Regions from separate parts of the Homo sapiens genome. Here region 2 is linked to region 1. A link means that fine-mapping ties the variant in region 1 to the expression of a gene that starts in the linked region. Tissue or cell type: whole blood. Region 1 holds a variant in brackets; the other region holds the start of a gene. All regions are shown on one strand. Distances are between the middles of the regions.

What was found. PIP is the estimated chance that this variant, and not a neighbour inherited with it, causes the effect.
Region 2: it holds the start of LDHD, and the variant in region 1 is fine-mapped to the expression of LDHD in whole blood (INTERVAL, PIP above 0.99).

The regions. Positions count from the first base shown.
Region 1 is chr16:75,052,896-75,061,000 of GRCh38, forward strand. The region is part of intron 1 of ZNRF1 (zinc and ring finger 1); the gene reads left to right. Among named protein-coding and RNA genes, the nearest start is that of ZNRF1, 58 kb to the left of the region's middle. The variant C/T (reference allele first, on the strand shown) is at 4,285.
Region 2 is chr16:75,113,536-75,121,640 of GRCh38, forward strand. LDHD (lactate dehydrogenase D) reads right to left here and starts at 3,245. Exons shown (of 11, transcript NM_194436.3): 1 at 3,114-3,245; 2 at 2,013-2,125; 3 at 1,663-1,804; 4 at 1,292-1,433; 5 at 991-1,150; 6 at 431-630; 7 at 207-335; 8 at 1-127. The coding sequence starts at 3,185. It also overlaps a transcript of ZFP1 not described here. RefSeq lists an enhancer at 2,476-2,770.

The DNA of each region.
Region 1 (8,105 bases):
AAACTTACAGAGTTAAAGCAAGGCTGGCAACCCATGTGAAAATGAGGAGAATCTGAGCCTTTTCATTTGCTGCCACTGGGGACATGATGTGAATCGGCGCCCTCTGACTTAGCTCCATGGGGCCTCTGGATTGGAAGTGAGGGAGGAGCCTCCTGAGCAAATGGACTGAAATTCCTGCCCTAGGTAGGCTGATTGCCTTCCTGAAGCTCTATTTATAGATCGCAGAGGAAATCTAGGGGGCTTTATCTCACTTCCCACCCCACATAATAAAACTGGTTCAGGTGGGTGGCTAGAACCTTAAAGTTAAACATCAATTATCTAAATATACATATAAGGTGGGAATAGAGGGTCAGAAAAGCATTTTTGTTCTCTAACTTGAGGACTCCAGCTAAAAACATAAAAATCGCCAATGGCTGGGTGCAGTGGCTCATGCCTGTAATCCCAGCACTTTGGGAGGCCAAGGCAGGTGGATCACCTGAGGTCAGGAGTTCAAGACTAGCCTGGCCAACATGGTGAAACCCTGTCTCTACTAAAAATACAAAAATTAGCCAGGCCTGGTGGCACACGCCTATAGTCCCAGCTACTCAAGAGACTGAGGCAGGAGAATCGCTTGAACCTGGGAGGCGGAGGTTGCGGTGAGCCGAGATCACACCATTGCACTCCAGCCTTCTGTGACAGAGCGAGACTCCATCTCAAAAAAAAAAAAAAAAAAAAAAATCACCAATGTCCAGTGGCTGTCACTATCAGGGGCTATTTGTGAGCTTCCCTAATGCCCATGATAGATGTGCCCCATGCTGTAAAACACATCCACCTATTAAATAAGCAGAGTGGACTCACATAAGTAGTAATTTCCTCACAAGCTCAGAAAATGTCTTTTCAGTTTGTACTTTGGTGTGTACACATCACATTTTGGAGAAAGTCTAGACTTTAGAAAAGAGCCTTTAGGGTATTCCCAGGTTGTTCCTGGGCTCCTGTACTCCCTGTTCAGGTCACCTCTGCTGGCTTTGGCTCATTGTGGCCACGCAAGTTCTTTGTTACATATTCCCTTTGGTGATCAGAGTCTTCCCAAGCCATGGTCAAAACTTTACTTTTCGTATGAACTATGTGTCTTCCCCTTCAGGGAATAGGACTGATGCCATTTGAGATTATTTCTTCCTTCCTTGTTGACAATTCCCTTTGTACTCCCCCAAGGCCCTAAGCAAGGACCCTTAGTTTCCTCTGGTTTCGTGGTTCCTGTGAAAAAGGCAGAAGCCCATGTGGAAAATCCTCATCCTGCTGTGTTTCAACAAGCAAAGTGCATTTTGTCTTTCAGAGTGGGAAGGACCTTAACTGTGTTGACCAGAAGTGCAGTTCCTGGCTTCAGCCATTTTGCTTTGGAGAAGGAAAATAAATGCAGTGACCTTTGTTGTGAGGGTAGGGTACTCTTGTTCTAAAAGTCCATTTGTGGTGAGGCGTGGCCCTGCTGGGAGAAGCTGATGCCACTTTGCCTCCCTGGCACCCTGCCAGTTCTGTCTGCTTTGTTGACTTTGGTGGCTCAAGGGACAAGCCAGGCACTGGCTCATCTTTTCCTGCCTGATTCTCTGGGCAGATTTCTCCATAGGGTCTGCAGGGAAGTGGGGGAAAGCTGGGTATGGTCAGAGTGGAGGTCACTATGTGGGCTTCTCAGTCCTCATGCTGGTCTGTGTCAGGTGCCTTTAATTCAGGGCCTAAGGAACCATTGCTTTTTAGCCTAAGCAGCAATTTAATAATTTAGCAATCAGGTAATACTGGCACTTTGTTCTCCCCTGGCTGTTTTCTCAAGCTAAGTTCTGTGTTAGCATTTCTTGATTTCTCCCCTGATACTAATCCTCCTGGGAGATTGGCCTTACCTATTCACGTGGAGCGTGGCTTCTCTAGGAATGTGGGAATTGCTCCATGGCAATGGTGCTTTGGCCTTCACTGCCCACATCACTGGGACCATCCCAGCCCTTCTTGTCTCTAGCCTTTCTTACAGGTCAAGTCCAAACAGGAGGATCTGACTCTCTTCTTGGTCTTTTCTCCTGTCTAGCTGTCTTGTTTTAGAGCAGAAATTAAAGGAGCAGGGTGTCCTAATGAAACTGTTACTGTGATCATATCAGCTCTCTAGAACAAATTCAGAAAGACGGCCCTTTGTAACAGGCAGACTGGGTGGGCAGGCGTTCGTTTGTAAAGAGATGGCTTTCCTCTCCCAACAAGCAGGGCCAGGCATCACCCCATGCTGCATTGATGCAGGGAGTGAATTGAGAAGTGTGGGAACGTCATTTGGACTCTTTCCATTGCTCCCATTTTAATGCTTTCTAAAGGAACTGTTTCTCAGGTTTAAATAAAGTGGCAACACTGGCTTACTAGAACTTATTTATTTTTATTTATTTATTTTTGAGGCGGAGTCTCGCTGTATCACCCAGGCTTACTAGAATTTAGAACCACTCCTTCATTTGTGTGTATCCATTCTGTCTTTCCAGTCCCCAATGTATGATGTAGAATCTCACCTTCTTGCAGCAGAACCAGTGCCCTAAGTTATTGGATGTCTTTGTTGTGAAGAACTTGGTTCCAGCACTTTCCATGCTACCAGCCCAGGAGTAGGTCGTGTTCTGTCCTCAAACATTGGAGTCTTGGGTAGACTGCAGGCCTGATGACAGGCATTGCTCGTCTCCCTATGAGAGGCCTTTTCCTTCCTTTGCCCACAGAGCATTGTGGACACACCAGCTGCCTGCCTGGAAGAAGGAGCTCCTTCCTACCAGCCTGTGGAGTCTCATTTCTGCTGGAAAGGCATAAGAATGCTGCAGACTTGACCTCGGGACCCTACCACGCTTTCCAAGTGACCTTAGAGATTAAAGATCTTTGATTTTACAGAAGAAAAACAGCATAAACACTCAGTCTTGTGGGGGTAGTTATTGCCTTTCCTACTAAAAGTAGCATTACCTGGGAAAGCTGGCCTTGTCTCCAACTGGGCACATCCTTGAAGGACCAAGAGGGTCTTCTAAGAAAACCATCAATGTTTCTGTTCCAGTATTTCCTCGATAAAGACATTTGCCAACCAGTGATCCAAGCTATCCCTCAGCTGCTCAGAATTTACCTCAATTCCTTTGCTGAGCAGGCATGTTGTATTTCTATGTAATGGGGCATATTTGCCTTTGGAGAAAATTCTGAGGACTGTAATCATTTTAGCCATTGATAGCTGATGGTCAGTTCTGCAGGTGCCTCTCCCCATATCACATTAAGACTCCTTTTTATATATAGTTTGAAGTTTAAGGATCCATAAGGATGAATTGGAATCTTCTTCTTAAGAGGTATGGGCTTAAGAAAGTTGAACTGTAAAAGGATCAGTTTCATTCTATTCAGCCCAGCGTGTAAGCCTAGTGACTGTGTGTTCATTCACATTTTCATCAGGCAGCTCTGGCCAGAGGCCCTGAAAGGGTTGAGTATGGTGGAAGATTCCATCGTTTTCAATGACAGTACTGCTCATAAGTTCTAGTGGTTCTGAAAAGAATAGGTTTAAAAGTGAGGTATAAGATTATGTATGATGTTGATGTTATGTGTGAGGTTGATGTTTACCTTTCTTGGTTGACAAATCTGGTATTGGTCCTCTGACAAGAATGGAAACTGTATGTTTGGACAAAAATACTGAAGATACAGATACTGAAGTTCACAAGTATCATGATGTGAGAGGATAGATCATTTTCATTTCAAGGACTTGGTTCATGGAAAAACCTTTTTTTTTTTTATTCCTTTGAGACAGTTTTCCTCTTGTCACCCAGGCTGGAGTGCAATGTCATGATCTCAGCTCACTGCAACCTCTACCTTCTGGGTTCAAGTGATTCTCTTGCCTCAGCCTCCCTAGTAGCTGGGATTACAGGTGTGTGCCACCATGCTTGGCTAATTTTTGTATTTTTAGTAGAGATGGGGTAACTTAAGAAGTTACCATGTTGGCCAGGCTGGTTTTGAACTCCTGACCTCATGTGATCCACCCGCCTTGGCCTCCCAAAGTGCTGGGATTACAGGCCTGAGCCACTGCGCCTGGTCAGGAAAAGACTTTTTAATGCCACTAGATTCCTCTCCTGATGCATTCAGGCCTGTGGCATCCTCTAGTTCAGTTTCTTGGGTAGTTGGTATTACAGATTTAGAGTCTTGTTTTGATGGACATTTCTCCATACAGAGTACCGTAATGCTGTTGCATTTTCTTTCAGATTTGTTCAGAATCTCCTGGGGGTTTCTCTCATTCAGAATCAGGTACTACCGGGGCATCTTGGAATACCCCCACCCTGC[C/T]GTCCTGCTGCATGTCCCTGCTCCTTTGACTCCATTGTAGTTCACGTGCTTGTTTGTTGCTTATTCATGCCAGATTTCTAATATAAATGGAATTTAGTAAGGTTATTCTAATACAAATACAGATGGTGACAGTTTTGTTTTCTTCTTTGCTCTGCTAGAGTCACCAGGTTTGATCAACACTTGGAGTTTTTTTTAATATATTGATTTGGTCCTGGATAAAGAGGTGCCAGATTAAGAAAAGCTCCTTAAGAAGCAATTTATTCCTTAGCCAGGGGCTTGGCCTGTTTGGTGTAGCAGAGTGACCAGATTCATTCTGGTCTTACAGGTGCTATCTTGACCGCTTTCATTTTTATAAATAAGGGATTCATCTTCCCTGGCCTCAGGATCGTCATAACAGCTGCTTTGCAAGAAATTCGATGGAATTGGTTCTTTCCTTCTGCCTTGGAAACTGCTATGTATTTTTCATTTTTATTTTTTTGAGAGTCTCACTCTGTCACCCCAGCTGGAGCGCAGTGGCACAACCTCAGCTTACTGCAACTTCCGTCTCCCGGGTTCAAGTGATTCTCTTGCCTCAGCCTCCTGAGTAGAGTAGCTGGGATTACAGGTGTGCACTACCACACCCAGCTAATTATTGTATTTTTAGTAGAGATGGGATTTTACCATGTTGGCCAGGTTGGTCGTGAACTCTTGACCTTAGGTGATCCACCTGCCTCAGCCTCCCAAAGTGCTGGGGTTTACAGGCGTGAGCCACCACGCCCACCCAGAAATTGCTGTTTATACATGGTGGGCTGTGTGTGGAGAAAAGTAGGGACCACTGCTGTTGTAAACCTTCTCAACAAATATGAGGCCTGAGAGAGAACCGCATTCCATCCTTTCTGGTCCTCTAAATACACTGATACTTGACCTGCCCTTTTTCCTTTCCTTTTCTTTTTTTTTTTTTTTTAAATATTTTATGTTATTTTATTATTTTAGAGACGGGGGGGTGGTCTCACTATGTTGTCCAGGCTGATCTCGAACTCCTGGTCCCATGCAGTCCTCCCACCTCAGCCTGCCTGGGACTACAAGCATGTGCCACAATGGACGCTCCTTTGCTTTCTGTGCGGGAGCGTTTAGATCTGAGGAGCGCTGTGGCTGGTCCCTTGAGGTGAGCTGTTCTCATCCATTATATGCAGCTTTTTCTACTTTGGCTTTCAGTAGCTTTGCTTGCAAGGAGCACTCTAAGAATAACACAATAAATGTTAGACCCAAGGATTATTTCCCCAAACCTGCTGGCCCAACACTGTTGCAGTCAGCAGGAACTAAGGAGAATAACAGAGTAGCCAAGGCCTCTCAAAAGAATGAGATAAATTGTTAAAGATGGGACAACTACTCTAGACCAGAAATGACTGCCATAGTGGGGATCAGTTAAAGAGGAATCATAGCCCTACTGGACAACAGGGCTCCCAGGACTTGGGCAGAAAGTAAGTAGCAAACCTCATCACGCTGCTTTGGAAAAGGGATTTGGGTTGAGTTTGGTAACCTGATGACAGACTAGGTGGAGGGTAGATGGCAGTGGGTGTTGGTACTCATCTTGCTCTGCTGGTTGGACTCAGGAGAGTTGTTCCACATCCTCGTGGTTCCTTTCCGTTTGTCCTTTAAATAAATCGGTCTCATCCCCCAGGAGATGCGCTGGGCTTTCTGTGTGCCTTAGTTGAGAGTGTTTGACCACCTTGTGTTTTCCTTGGACTGTTGATGAGCTGCTGCCAAATGTTACCCTTCCAAGGGGCTGCTACCCGCCAGGCTTTTCATACTTGAATATAAACAACTAGATACTGGCCTTGATCCCCAGCTGTGTGAGCATCTGGGAGCAGTGAAGGAAGCCTCAGAATGTGTCAGGCCTGCCTGCTCTAGGAAGAGCCAGAGGAACTGCCAACCATCCGGACTGTTTTGAGAGTAGGTGTCAGGACTTTGCAGCTACCCTTTGCCCTTGTAGGCTTGGCCCCAGATATCTTGGATTTTCTTTTTTCTTTTCTTTTCTTTTCCTTTCCTTCCTTCTTTCCTTCTTTCTTTCTTTTTTTTTTTTTTTCTTTTTTTTTTTTTTTTTGTGGAGAAAGAGTCTCACTCTGTCCCCCAGGCTGGAGTGCAATGGCGCAATTTTGGCTCACTGCAACCTCCACCTCCTCCGTTCAAGCGATTCTCCTGCCTCAGCCTCCCAAGTAGCTGGGACTACAGGCATGCACCACCACGCCTGGCTAAGTTTTGTATTTTTTGTAGAGACAGGGTTTCACCATGTTAGCCAGGCTGGATATCTTGGATTTTCAAAAAGAACAGCATAATGAATTCAGATAAAGCATGAGAAATCTCAGATGCAGTGGGGGTATCAGAGAAAACTACCCATCTTCTTACTTTTGTTTGTGACGAAATGGCTCAGATCTCGTAGGAACCGGTTTTTCAGCCATCAAAAAGACTCCCATCTATCTCTTGAAGTTTGTTCTCAGGTCTTATCTGATCCTTCCATTTCTGAATGTGAGCAGAGAAGTGTTTGGAGCCAAAAGTTCGAAGTTTTTACTCTACCTGTAATGTTTGGAAATTGTATAAATCAATTTAAACATGGACTAAAGGTCTTAGGCTGATGGATTTGACCGCTCCTTTCTCTCCTTCAGGCCGGCTTTGTTTCATTTGACCCTTGAAGTTACATTCTTTATGTTCCTTCATCTCATTTCTCTCTTCACTCCTTTACAAAGTCTAGGGGATCAGACAGACAATTTGACTAGGATTTTATGACTAGACCTCGTTTGATTATTTGGTACAGCCCAGGATATTAGGAGCTTCTCTCAGTTGTAGAAACCCAGGAGCACTTGGACTTGCCGTTACAAACCAAGGTGAAGTGACAGTTTTCTTTTCTTTTTTTTTTGAGGCGAGTCTCACTCTCTTGCCCAGGCTGGAGTGCAGTGACACGATCTCGGCTCACTGCAACCTCCGCCTCACAGGTTCAAGTGATTCTCCTGCCTCAGCCTCCCGAGTAGCTGGAACTACAGGCGCGCATCACCACACCTGGCTAATTTTTGTATTTTTAGTAGAGACAGGGTTTCACCATATTGACCAAGCTGGTCTCAAACTCCTGACGTTGTGATCCGCCCATCTTGCCTCCCAAAGTGCTGGGATTACAGGCATGAGCCATTGCACCCGGCCGACAGTTTTCTAAGTTAGGGTAGTCCCACCTTGCCTGTGGCAGGAGCAGGGAAATATATCCTATCTCTACATTTGAGCACAATGACCATGAAATCCACCCTAGCATACCAGACTCAGAAAATCTTTTTTTTTTTTTTTTTTTTTTTTGAGACAGTTTCATTCTGTCGCCCAGGCTTGGAGTGCAGTGGTGTGATCTCGGCTCACTGCAACCTCCGCCTCCCAGGTTCAAGCGATTCTCCTGCCTCCCTCCCAAGTAGCTGGTATTACAGGCACACACCACCCTGCCTTGCTAATTTTTGTATTTTTAGTAGAGATGGGGTTTTGCCATGTTGGCCAGGCTGGTCTTGAGCTCCTTGACCTCAAGTGATCCACTTGCCTCGGCCTCCCAAAGTGCTGAGATTACAGGCGTGAGCCACCGCGCCCGGCCAGAAACTTGGATTTTAATCTTGGCCGCAGCTTTGATTTTGATGGTAGAATTCCAAGGTCATCTCTATTTCTCCCCTGTACTATGAGGGTACTGGAGTTTTGTAACTTCGTGAGGAGGAGGAGGCTAAGAAAATAGGGAAGGAAGTTCTCAAGAAGGCTGTGCAGTGGTGACTCCCCTTCAGGGGACACTAACGAATTCAGATCCTAATATGAAGCTCTGATTA
Region 2 (8,105 bases), 61 kb after region 1:
TTGCAGCCTGGCCGCGTGGCCAGGGCTGCGTACCAGGCATTGTGCCGTGCTGTCCAAAGCCGGCTGCGCTCCTCGGCCTCCTTGGCCCAGGAGAAGTCAGAGGCTCCGTTCTGCTGGACTATCTCCTCTGCAGTTGGGGAAGGGGGGCTGACACCGGGCCGCCACTGAGGCAGCCCACCCTGCTGCCCCACTCCACCCCAGCATACCTGTGCGCTGCAGCTGCTCCTCCAGTGCCTGCTGGGAGCCATGGAACTCCAGGAAGAGTGTGGGCGCCACTAAGCAATTCAGCTTGCTGTACCTGTTGCAGGCATCCATCATGACTTCATCCAGGAACTCTGGATCCAGGGAGATGGCAGGCCAGGTGAGGCCTGGCCTTCCCAGGGGGCCTCTTCCAGGGAGCCCACCCTGACTGCCCCCATCCTCAGCTCACCAATGCGGGCTACGGGCACTGCAGCCTGGAGGATGTGTACAGTGCTGTCCACAGCAGCCTGGACACTGGGGAACGCACACGTGGCGGCCACTGTGGCCTCAGGGGCAGGGTGCAGGCGCAGGGTGGTGGCTGTGATGAGGCCCAGCGTCCCCTCGGAGCCCACGAAGAGCCCCGTGAGGTTGTAGCCGGCTGCACTCTTCCTACGTCCCAGGGACACACAAGGTGAGTACCAGGCTGTGTGATGAGGGATTTCTGGCCAGAAGCCGAAGCTGGAACCCAAGACACCGACCCCAGGCACTGAGGTCTGGGCTGGCCTCCCTCGGGCCCAGTTTCCCTGGCCCAGTGCTTTCTGCTCCACAAAGCCAGTCGGCCTCAGGCAGGGAGAGCAAACCCTGGTCCCATCCACTTTGGCCCAGCTGACAGGGCTTCAGAGCCTGAGGAAGCCTAGCCTGCCAAACCAGGGGGCCGCCAGGAGGTGCTTTTCACAGCCCGGTCTCTGCAGGGCAGCCCGCCAGCAGTGCCCAGGGCCAGAGCCCGGGCCCCCCGCAGAGGGCGCTCACCGGAAATGCCGGCCTCGGCCCGCCGTGTGCAGCAGCCGCCCGTCGGGCAGCACCACCTCCAGGTTGAGCACGTTGTCCCGCATGGTGCCGTAGCGGACCGCGTTGGTCCCCGACGCCCCGGTGGCCGCCATGCCACAGAGAGAGGCGTCCGCGCCTGGGTCTGGAGGGCGGCGTACAGAAGGCAGCCTCAGGGACCGGAGGTCCTTTCCCTCGGGCTGGGGGAGGAAGGTCCCCTGAACCCCAGACACAGCCCTGCTCCCACGGTGCCCTCAGGGTCCCAGGAAAGGTTCGCGAGTCCTACCCACGGGAAACCAGAGGCCGCTGTCCCGCAGGTGGGCGTTGAGGGCTTTGCGGGTGACACCTGGCTCCACCACCACAGAGAAGTCCTCCTGGTTCAGCTCCAGGATTCGGTCCATATGCGTCAGGTTAACGCAGACGCCGCCCTGGTTGGGGCAGGTGCTAAGACCACTGCAGACCTGGGTCTCTGACCTGGCCACGTCCCCGGACCACACCCCGCGGGTGTCCCCCCAGCAGCCAGACCAGACCCCCAGAGGCAGGCAGCCCACGGGCGGGAGCAGACCCAAGGTGCCGTGTGTGGCGGGGGAGGCAGCCACAGGTGTGCCAAGGTGTGCTGGGACCATCCTCGGGCCGGGCGAGGGAGCCCCACTGTACCTGCACAGCACAGACGCCACCCTCAAGCCCGGTGCCGGTGCCGAATGGGATGATGGGCACACCTTGGCGATAGCACAGGGCTGCCAGCCGGCTGACCTGCTCCACGTTCTGGGGCCACACCACAGCATCAGGAGGTTCGCACCTAGAACCAGACCCTCAGCGATTTAGCGGGGCGTGACACCCTCTGGTCCCGAGGTGTTGCAGGGCCTGAGGCTACAGCAAGCGAGGGGCAGAGAACATGCCAGAGCACCCCAAAACAGATGAGTGAGGAGGAAGGCAACCCAGCACCCTCTCTCTCAGCTGGGGTTGAATCCAGAAGACAGGGGAGGGGCCCGCGAACCCTCCCATACCTGTGCACCGACTCATCGCGCCCGTGCTGCTCTCGGACCACCGCGGCAGTGGACACGTGGGAGCCGCCCACCACGGCCTTCAGAGCCTCTACGAAGTCCCTGCAGAGCTCTCCCTGCAGGGAAGAAACACACTGCCAGGGTCCCCCGAAAGACACATGGGGCCACAGCCCTGCCCCAGTGTCGGGGGGAGGGCTGGGGGCTGGAGGCTGGAGTGAGCCTCCCCTGCGCCCGCCCCGCTGACAACATCCTTGCCAGGTGGGCCCACTTTAAACAAACCCACTATCCAGAAATGCCTCTTTTCCAAACAGAGCCATTGGGGGTCAAAGTTTCCCCTCAGAAAAAAACGCCACCAGAATTTTTTTAATGTTTTCTTTTTTAATAAAAACAGGGTCTTACTATGTTGCCCAGGATGGTTTCAAACTCCTGGGCTCAAGCGATCCACCTGCCTCGGCCTCCCAAAGTGCTGGGGTTACAGGCGTGAGCCACAGCGCCCAGCCATCCAAATAAAAAACCAGAATTCACTCTCCAAAAAGGCTATCAGCAGGGTTCCTTCAATAGCCAGCCCAGCCTGAGCAACCGAAAAGATCCCTCACTTCCTCCTTTCTCCAGGGCCAACCAAGCACCACCCCAGCCACAGGGAACTCAGAGCTTGATAAGGGAATTAGGGGGAGGAAAAGCTTCCACTGCCCCCTCCCCACTCTACGTTGCCTGGGGCTTCTGGGCCCTTCGTGGGGGGCGGGGCGCGGCGGGGCGGGGGATGTGTTTCTTCCCATTTTACAGATGAGAAATGGAGGCCAAGTTAAGGACAGAGCCTGGCCTGGAACCCAGGCCCTTTCCTTCAGGGCCTTCTTCCACAGGTGTGTTTTATTCCAGGGGCATCCATTTGACTCCCCCAGCCCCACTCATGGTAGCAGTGGGGACTCAGCTGATCTCACTCTACACCCACCCACAGTTGCCACAGGGTAAGCCCAGTGCCCTTTTGCCCAAGGTCAGGTCACTTGGTGCTGGGGCGTCACAGAGCCCAGGAAACTTGGGATCAGAACCCCCTGCTCCCCGCTCCCCACCTCATCCCTCCAGAGGACTTCTCTTCTCTCCCGGTACCTTTGCCTTCTGGGAGCAGTAGCCCCTCCAGGGGAACAGCTCCCAGGTTGCAGACCTGAGCAGTCGGGCCATAGCCAGGCACTGGCCAGAGGGTGTGAGCACTGGGTGGCAGGGTGACCAGTCAGCTACTGTGGCAGCAGCTACTGCTGCTGTCAGCCCATTGGCTAGGCCAGGGGTGGGGCCTGCTTAAGGTGGCACGGGCTTTAAGGTGGCCCTTGCAGATCTTGCAGACATTTTCGTGGGCTCCAGGGACGACACTTCTAAAGGAGAGGCGAGGTTCACTGGACGTTTTGGGAAACTGTAAGGCAAAAATAAAATTCTAAGCCTCCCAACCGACTGAATGGACCTCCCTCTCAGCCCAGGGCATTCCAAAATAAACCTGAAAAATTAATTCAGGCTGTGATGGGAAGAGGTTTAGGACAAGCCTCATTATCCCCCTCCTTCCTTTAGAATTCAGACACAACTGACCAGCATTAACATTAAAACAGAGACCTTAAGGCATTCTGATCTTAAGACACAAAACAGACTCTTTGTAGCAATAAGATACCAAATTCCAACCTGACTCTAGCATCACCTGACAGATAGCAGGCCCTGAAAGAAATCAATGTATTTTACCCCCAAAATATATTCCTCTGATTTTTTTTTTAAATAGCTCCAAAAAGCTGTCTTTTGTGGGGAAAATCTAGAATCTGTAGAGAATCCCCTCCCCTTTCCAGGTTTTTTGTTTTGTTTTGTTTTGTTTTGAGACAGAGTCACTCTGTGGCCCAGGCTGGAGTGCAGTAGCGTGCTGCAACCTCCACCCACTGGGTTCAAGCGATTCTCCTGCCTCAGCCTCCCAAGTAGCTGGGATTACAGGTGCCTGCCACTGTGCCCAGATAATTTTTCTATTTTTAGTAGAGACAGGGTTTCACCATCTTGGCCAGGCTGGTCTTGAACTCCTGACCTCGTGATCCACCTGCCTTGGCCTCCCAAAGTGCTGGGATTACAGGCATGAGCCACCGCGTCCAGCCTCTTTCCAGGTTTTATCCTGATCTAAGGGAGATTTAACTAAGAGTCTGGCACCTTTTAACGCCTTAGACATTTACCATCTATGTTACATAATAAGAACCTTGGGCCGGGTGCAGCGGCTCACATCTGTAATGCCAGCACTTTGGGAGGCCAAAGTGGGAGGATCACGAGGTCAAGAGATAGAGACCCTCTTGGCCAACATGGTGAAACCCCGTTTCTACTAAAAATACAAAAATTAGCTGGGCATGGTGGTACACGCCTGTAGTCTCAGCTACTTGGGAGGCTGAGGCAGGAGAATCGCTTGAACCCAGGAGGTGGAGGTTGCAGTGAGCTGAGATCGCACCACGGCACTCCAGCCTGGCGACAGAGCGAGACTCTGTCTCAAAAAAAAAGAACCTTGGTCTCCACAACTCCTTATCTTAACCCAGATGCTTATTTCTATTGATTCCAGGTTGTCTTTTTTAAAATTTTTTATTTAAAAAAAATTTTGTTGTTGTATACCAAGATTCCAAGTCTTTGGATAATAACTTCTTTCAACCAATTGAAAATCAGAAATTTTTTTTTTTTTTTGAGATGGAGTCTCACTCTGTTGCTCAGGCAGTGGCGTGATCTCAGCTCACTACAACCTCCATCTCCTGGGTTCAAGCTGTTCTCATGCCTCAGCCTCCCAAGTAGCTGGGATTACAGGAGTGCCACCATGCCCAGCTAATTTTTGTATTTTTAATAGAGACAGGGTTTCACCATGTTGGTCCAGGCTGGTCTCGAACTCCTGACCTCAAGTGATCCACCCGCCTTGGCTCCCCAAAATGCTGGGATTACAAGTGTGAGCCACCGTGCCCAGCGCCAATCAGAAAAGTCTTTGAATTCACCTATGACCTGTAAGCTCCTCCCTCAATCAGAAGGAACCAATGCATACCCTGCTTATATTGATTACTGTCTGATGCCTCCCTAAACTGTATAAAACCAGTTGTAACTCAACTGCCTTGGGTACATGTTCTCAGGACCTCCAGGGAATGTGTCACAGGTCATGGTCTTCATGTGAGTGGTGGGAAATCCATACAGGTCTACATAAAACTCAATGCTTGCCTCATCAGAAGAAAGAATTCTACTGAAGAGGTCTGAAAGGGAAATATCTTGAGCCCCCAAAATTACTAAGCTAAAGGGAAAAGTCAAGCTGGGAACTGCTTAAGGCAAACCTGCCTCCCATTCTTTCAAAGTCACCCCTCTGATCACTGAGCTAAATGCATATCTGATTGCCTCCTTTTGAGAGGATAATTAGAAACTCAAAAGAATGCAAACATTTGTCTCTTATCTACCTATGACCGGGAAGCCCCCTCCCTGTCTTTCCAGACCCAAACAATGTTCATCTTACGTATGTTGAGTGACGTCTCAAGTCTCCCCAAAATGTATAAAACTAAATTGTGCTCTGACCACCTTGGGGACATGTCATTGGGATCTCCTGAGGCTGTGTCACACCATCATCATTGGCAAAATAAACTTTCTAAATTAACTGAGACCTTTCTCAGATTTGGGGGGTTCATATTTTGGTAACCACAGAAGAATTCTGACTGGAGGCGCCCCTGACCTTTGACAAAGCTATCAGTGCTTGGTACCAGCTTGAGCTATCTTTATGGCTCAAACCAATAGGACAATTTGCTGAGGCCCGGAAGCACACCCTCCAGAGAATACCTTATCTTTCAAAATCTGGTCAAGATCTAAAGTTCATTTTGTTGTACAACTCCTCTTTTTTTTTTGGAGTTTTACTTGCTTCTAACACAAGGAAGGCAAATTTTTCCTGCTTCCATGTTGATGGAAGGCAGGTAACTCCTTTATGGTGTTTGAGCTCGCAACCAACAGGGAAGATGAGGGTTTTTCCCTGCTTCTAGGATGGTAGAGAGCAGTCTTCAGCCTGAAACCCATCCCTAGGTAAGTAACTGAATTGGGGTTTGTTTTGGCTAAAGTTAAGATTACAACCAGCTGGTCTTAATTTCTCCTTACCACTAGAAAGCTTAGTAATCATATAAATTGTGTGATCATTTGTTTTGCTTAACTGTTTTGTTGTTGTTCATTTCTCTTTTTGTTGTTCTTTCAGTCTTTTTCCCATTGGGTTTGATCAACTCTATCTGACTTGATCAAATACAAAGGAAGTCCCAAATTATGGGGAACAAGGCCTCTGAAGTGGCTAAATTCACACACACACACATACACAAAGGATGATGTGATAGGGGGTGAAAAACAGCCAGCAAAAGGAAAAAAAAAAGGAAAGATTTTTTATTTTGACTACTAAGTGGCTTTAGTTACACAACGAGGCCACCTTTTTGCTAGCCAGGCCAAACTGAAAGAGCAATGGCTGTGCTTCTGAAATAGCAGCAATTTGTCCTAGCTGAAATATGGTAATGAGATTTTAAAAGATTTTTTTAAAGGAGCTCAATGATTAAAAGTCAGCTTAATTAAAAGCTAACATCGAAGATGTGCATGTGTATGTGTGGTGTGTGTGTGTGTGCGCATGTGCGTGTGTGTGTTTGTATTTAAAAGGACTTCATGTTTTTGTTTTTGTTTTTCTCCAAGAATCTTGTCTTTTTTTGAGCGAAAGTTTTTTTCTTCTCAGTTGACTGAATTCTGTTTTCTTCATTTACTTCGGCTGTATCTCCTTTCTCTTGCACCCTCTGCTGCATGAGGGACCTAAAATAGTTTATAATAGCTGGGGTTCCTTAAAGAGAACAGAGAAGGCACCAGGCTCCCTTTAAGGGAGAAACCTGTTTTTTCTTATGCAATCCCCAGAGTGTAAACAGGCAAGTTCGTCTCGTCTCTTCAACTGCTTACTTTTGTATTGTTGTTACCTGTTTGTGGTTTTTTTTTGGGTTTTTTTTTGTTTTTTTTTTTGACTAAAATAGTTATTGCAACAGAGGTTACCCTTGGGTTTTTTTGTTTTTTGTTTTTTGTATTGTTTGTTTGTTTGTTTTGAGTCTGAGTTTCACTCTGTCGCCCAGGCTGGAGTGCAGTGGCGCAATCTCGGCTCACTGCAAGCTCCGCCTCCCGGGTTCACGCCATTCTCCTGCCTCAGCCTCCCAAGTAGCTGGGACTACAAGCGCCACCATGCCCAGCTTGTTTTTTGTTTGTTTGTTTGTTTGTTTGTTTGTTTTGTATTTTTAGTAGAGACGGGTTTCACCGTGTTAGCCAGGATGGTCTCGATCTCCTGACCTCATGATCCGCCCGCCTCAGCCTCCCAAAGTGCTGGGATTACAGGCATAAGCCACTGCACCCAGCCTACCCTTGGGTTTTTAAGGAAGACTATGGTTTAGACACTTAGAAATGTCTTTGTTTAAAAGAAGTTTTTTAAAAAGTGCACTGTAAAAGCATCACGTGTTCTAACCTCATAATAAGTGTCCCTTCTTGGAGACCCAGGATTCAGTGTGGGCTCTGCCCAGAGCTCAGAGATCCACTTAAAAGGTAGTCCCTTTATCTAAATAAAACTAGTCTCCTTATACAATCCTATGATAAATTTCTTTTTTGTTTTTTTTTTTTTGAGACAGAGTCTCGCTGTCACCCAGGTTGGAGTACAGTGGGGTGATCTCTGTACTCCAGAGAGTACAGACATAACTGGGACTACAGGCGCCCACCACCACGCCCAGCTAATTTTTTGTATTTTTAATAGAGACGGGGTTTCGCCGTGTTAGCCAGGATGGTTTCGATCTCCTGACCTTGTGATCCGCCCACCTCGGCCCCCCAAAGTGTTGGGATTACAGGAATGAACCACCACACCCGGCAAATTTCTTTAATTTTATGTTTGATTTGGCATTCATCTTTCATCTCCCTCTGGCACCATCAGACTTTTTCTCTCTGTACCTTATGATGTAAATTTTGCTATTTGATTTTCACCTGAGTTGTTTCCTTTAATATGCAAACATAAGGCTAGTTAGCTGACAACTGCCTAGGGTTGTGAAGCAGGTTATCAATAATCTGAGTGTATCCATAAGATGTACT